2 separate regions of the Homo sapiens genome follow, and region 2 is linked to region 1. A link means that fine-mapping ties the variant in region 1 to the expression of a gene that starts in the linked region. Tissue or cell type: whole blood. Region 1 holds a variant in brackets; the other region holds the start of a gene. All regions are shown on one strand. Distances are from middle to middle.

Region 1 (2,760 bases):
GGCTCCCAGTTCCACAGGCTGTATAGGAAGCATGGCAGGAAACTTAAAATCATGGCAGAAGGTGAAGGGGAAGCAGGCACATCTTATGTGGCTAGAGCAGGAGGAAGAGAGAAGGGGGAGGTACTAAACACTTCTAAACAACCAGATCTCATGATAACTCACTACCACAAGAACAGCTCCAGGGGGAAATCCACCACCGTGATCCAATCACCTCCCACCAGACCCCACCTCCGACACTGGGGATTATTACAATTTGACATGAGATTTGGGCAGGGACACAGACCCAAACCATATCAGTGGCCTAACATTTAGAGCCATCTTAGATAATGTTCTGTGTGCACTTGAGAAGAATGTATATTTTGTTGCTGTTGGATGAAATGTTTTGTATATGTGCATTAGTTCCATTTAGCCTAACTTGTAATTCAAAGCCAATGTTATCTTACTGATTTTCTGTCTAGATGATCTGTCCATTGTTCAAAATGGAGTGTTGAAGTTTCCTACTATTATTATATTGCAGTCTATCTTTCCCTTCAGATTATTTATTTATTTATTTGAGATAGCGTCTTGTTTTGTCACCCAGGCTGGAGTGCAATGGTGTGATCTTGGCTCACTGCAGCCTCGACCTTCTGGGCTCAAATGATCTTCCCACCTCCTGAGTAGCTGGGCCTACAGATGTGCACTGCCATGCCTGGCTAATTTTGTTTATGTTTTGTAGAGATGAGGTCTCACTATGTTGTCCAGGCTAGTTTCAAACTCCTGGGCTCAAGGAATCCTCCTGCCTCAGCCTCCCAAAGTGTTGGAATTATAGACGTGAGCCACCACACCCAGCCTGCATTCAGATCATTTAATAGTTGCTTTTTATATTTAGATGTTCTAATGTTGGGAGCATATGTATTTACACTTGTTTTGTCCTCTTCATGAATTGAACCCCCTATTATTGTATAATGACCTTCTTTGTCTTTTTTTTTTTTTTTTTTTTTTTACAGTTTTTGACTTAGTCTATTAGGTCTGCTATCAGTATAGCTACTACTGCTCTCTTTTGGCTTCCATTTGCATGGAATATCTTTTTTCATCCCTTTGCTTTCAGTCTTTGTGTGTTTTTACTAATAATGTGAGCCTCTTGTAGGCTACATTTTTTTTTAAATCCACTCAGTTACTTTCTTTTGATTGGATAATTTAATTCATTTTTATTTAAGGTAATTATTTAATAGGTGTGGACTTCCTACTGCTATGTTGTAACTTGTTTTCTTTTGTCATTTTTCTTTTTTCATGCCTTGCTATTTTTTT[T/C]TGTGGTTTGGTGGTTTCCTGTAGTGATATGCTTCAAATTATTTCTTTTTATGTTTTGTGCAACTACTATAGGTTTTTGTTTTTGCTTTGTAGTTACCATGAGGCTTACATGAAACATCTTATACTTATAATAGGCTATTTTAAACAGATAACAACTTAACTCTATTCACATACAAAAATTCTACACTTTTACCCCAACCACCTCTTATAATATTGATATAAAATTTTACGTCTTTCTGTAATTTGTATCCCTTAACGATTTATTGCAGCTATAGTTGTTTTTAATACTTTTATCTTTTAACCCTCATAGTAGAGATAAAATTGCTTTATACACCACCATTAGAGTAGTAGATTATCCTGAATATGCCCATTGAGTTTTATATTTTCATATGCTTTGTTATTAATTAAATACCTTTTATTTCAGCTTAAAGAACTCTTTTTTAGCAATTCCTGCATGATTACTAGGCAGGACTAGTAATGATGAACACCCTTAAATTTTGTTTGTCTGGTGAAGTTTTTATTCTTCCTTATTTCAGAGGGACTTCTTCTGGATATATTCTTGTTTGGCACTGTTTTCCTTCAGCACTTTGAGTATATTATCCCACTCTGTCCTTATCTGCAGGGTTTTTGCTGAGACATCCACTGCTAGTCACATTGAGATTCCTTAAGATGTGATATTTCCTTATCTCTTTCTGCTTTCAGAGTTCTTTCTGTCTTTAATTTTGACAGTTTGATTATGATATGTCTTGTTGAACACCTCTTTGAGTTGAATTTTGTTGGAGACCTCTGAGCTCCCTGTACCTGGGTATTGACATCTTTCCCTAGATTTGGGAAGTTTTCAACCATTTTTTAAAAAGTGCTTTCTGGCACTTTCTCTCTTTCTCCACTTTCTGCCACTTCTATTTTTACTTATTTATTTATTTGAGGCAAGATCTCTCTCTGTTATCCAGGCTGGAGTGCAGTGACATGATCGTAGCTCACCATAACCTCGAACACCTTGGCTCAAGCTCAGCTTCTGGAATAGCTGGGACTACAGATGTGTGCCACCATGCCTGGCTAATTTTATTTTTGTAGAGATGGAGATCTTGCTGTGTTGCCCAGGCTGGTTTTGAACTCCTTGCCTCAAGCGATCCTCCCAGTGCCACTTTTATTATGTAAATTTAGTTATCTTGATGATATCCTATAATTCCCATAGGCTTTCTGTCTTCATTTTATTCTCTTTTCTTTCTTCCCTGAGTAATTTCAAATGTACCATCTTCAACCTCACTGATTCCTTCTTCTGCTTGATTGAGTCTGCCATTGAAGAGTTTTATTGAATTTTTCAGCTCATTTATTATATTCTTTTTCTCTAAAATTTCTATTTTTATTGTTTTTATTTCTTTGCCAAACTTTTTGTTTTGTTTGTGCATTGTATTTTAAATTTTATTTAATTTTCTATTCATGTTTTCTTGTAGTTCCCTGAGCTTCTTGAAG
Region 2 (2,500 bases), 37 kb before region 1:
GGGAGTCTTCTCTCTGCCTACCCAGTTCCTGTTTTCTTTAGAGGGCCTTTGGCCTGCCCTTAATATTGATATTCCATTAGGGACGCCCCTTCAAAGAGCCTTTCCCTAGACAATCTCACCCATACTTGCAACTTACTGACTTATAGTTCTTAACTCTCTCGAGTTCCAGACTTGAATTTTCAATCAACTCTTTAGTTTTAATCTGAAGCATCACCCCCTCTGCACACCCGCTCCTTCCTCTACTCTGTAGTATGAGAGTCTTAAACGTGAACATTATAAAAGTTTCCAATCATTTAGAATTTCAGGACACAACTGGAAGGGGAGGAGGGGCGAAGGGCACCACGGAGTTCCTACGTCTTAATTCTGTGTCCTTCTGCAGGTTCCCTTTGCGAAGACCTTAATCTTCAGTCTCGAGCAGGAGGCATTACAATGTTCTCCTGGGTGATGACTGCCATGAAATGGAATGACCGGGGCAGAGGCATGGACACTCGGAGCCACAGGAACCCCCTTGTTCTGCCAAAAGTACTCAATTTCCAAACCCTGTATTGACTTCTTTGAAAATCTGGTCATTCTATGCAAAGCCATGCAGATCATGATACAATCGATACAAATCAAATGCACATCAGGCAGAGCACCGAGGTCTGCAGAAGGTCTCGTCGATTTTTAAGGAGACAGAGTATGGTCTTTTTATAGTTTCCCTCATAAGGGAGCCAGAGGAAAGGATGAAGAATCTTCAAGAGAACCCAAGAGCGGGCAGGACTGCAAAGACCTCCCCTTTAGAACCCTCGTGGGTTGAACAAAGGGAGGCTGGGGCAGTCTTTTCCCACGAGAGACAAGGCCAAGAGGTCCGCCCGCGGGCCCTTGCGCGGAGTCAGGCTCGGAGCGGCTCGGGCGGGCGTCCCACCCTTGGCAGGAAGCGCGGACACGGCTGCTTTCCGGGGCTCCGAGGGGAGGGGGCTGCAGGGCCGCACGCCTGGGGGCCACGCTCCCCTTCCCTGGGCTCCCCTAAGGAGCCCTAAGACCGTTCCCTACTTACCTGCGTCCCCTGTCAGCGGCCATCAGCTCCTTGTGCTGGAAGGTGGACCAAGACCCCGCGCTCGGCGCCGCCATTTCCCGCTTTTCCCGGGCTCTCCGCTGCGCACCGCCCACAGCCCAAACAAACCGGGGGCCGTCGCTTCCCCCACATCCCTCCCCTCAGACGCGGACGCACACTGCGCCTGCGCCTGCGCCCTGCCGCGCCCACACACCAGGCCACCCAGTCCCCGGCCCGGTGCGTGCGCAGGCGCAGAGCTCTAGCGGCGGCCGCGCGGTCCAATGGGGTGAAGTGGGGTGCTCGGCGGACAGACAAAAGGAGGGGAAGGAGCGGGGCGGGGCAAAGGGCGGGGAAAGAGCGAGGGCGGGCGGGTGTGCTCCGTTCGGCCTGGGAATCCGATTGGTTATCGATTCCCGCGGAAATCACCCCGGTGCCTCTCGCGCCCCCTGGCCGGCCTATGGCGATAACTTCACGGAGACGGGCGTGGCTGGAGTTTTGCTTTATTGAAGTTGAACGGTTGGGGCCAGGCTGCGAAGGAGACTGAGAGCGCGACAAGGCCCTGGACAGATGCCCGCGCGGGGAAGGAAGGCTGGCTTAGGAGGGGGCGTCAGCTATGGTTTAGCAGCTTCCAGCGACCGAAACCTACATCACAGCCGCAGCACACAATTCCAGGAAACCTGGTGCTCAATATTGGGATCTCAGGAATCAGGACCGGCGGCTGGGGTGAAAGCCTAGCGGTCAGAGCTTAGGAGTGAGGCAGAAGCTGTTAGAGACTCTTCGCAAGTGACCCCGGGGCTACATATGGATGATTCAAGAGGGAGTCTCCTCGCCAGAAAGTTCACATGTTTCACTCCTTCTGGCCTTCATACCAACCCATTGTTAAAACTGGAAGTCCCTCCACCTGGGGTCACTGACTCCACTGTTTTCAGATAGGATGGGGACCCTGCACTGGAGACTGCTCTCTAGCCCCTGGGCAGGAGAGGCACAGACACTGCTACGCACGCGGAGCAGGGATCACCAGCGCTTTGACTGACTTTGCTCGTCCAGGAGGCTGGGGACATGCGTGCCCATGCTCAGCCCACCCCCTCTGTAGACACAATTGGTCGCCCATTCTGTTTATAGGAAGTCTTCCATCCTGCACCAGCAGCTGTCCCTAGACAGGGATTGGGAGACATGCAAGTTGCTTGGCTTCCTATTACCTTGTGTTGAAAACACAATAGGCTTTGGGATCAGGAGTTCATTCCAGTTATTTTAATGTTATTTACTAGCAGTGTGCCCTCGTGCACATTATCAAACTCCTCTGACTCTTGGAATCCTCATTTTTCAATAATAACTCACAAAGCTGTCAAGCCTAAGGGTTCTAACAGCTCGAACAGCACCTGGAACAGAAGCAATAGCCGCCACTCAGAGGTTACTTCTTCCTTCTCCGCCTTCTCTGGATCACCTCCCTACCTCATCCTCAATCTA

What was found. PIP is the estimated chance that this variant, and not a neighbour inherited with it, causes the effect.
Region 2: CASP2 starts here. The variant in region 1 is fine-mapped to the expression of CASP2 in whole blood (TOPMed, PIP above 0.99).

What each region holds. Positions count from the first base shown.
Region 1 is chr7:143,249,594-143,252,353 of GRCh38, reverse strand. The region is part of intron 2 of LOC105375546 (a long non-coding RNA gene); the gene reads right to left. Among named protein-coding and RNA genes, the nearest start is that of GSTK1, 12 kb to the left of the region's middle. The variant T/C (reference allele first, on the strand shown) is at 1,288.
Region 2 is chr7:143,287,066-143,289,565 of GRCh38, reverse strand. CASP2 (caspase 2) reads right to left here and starts at 1,215. Exons shown (of 11, transcript NM_032982.4): 1 at 1,037-1,215. The coding sequence starts at 1,110. It overlaps TMEM139 (transmembrane protein 139), which reads right to left. Exons shown (of 3, transcript NM_001282876.2): 3 at 1,518-2,500. RefSeq lists a silencer at 839-1,588.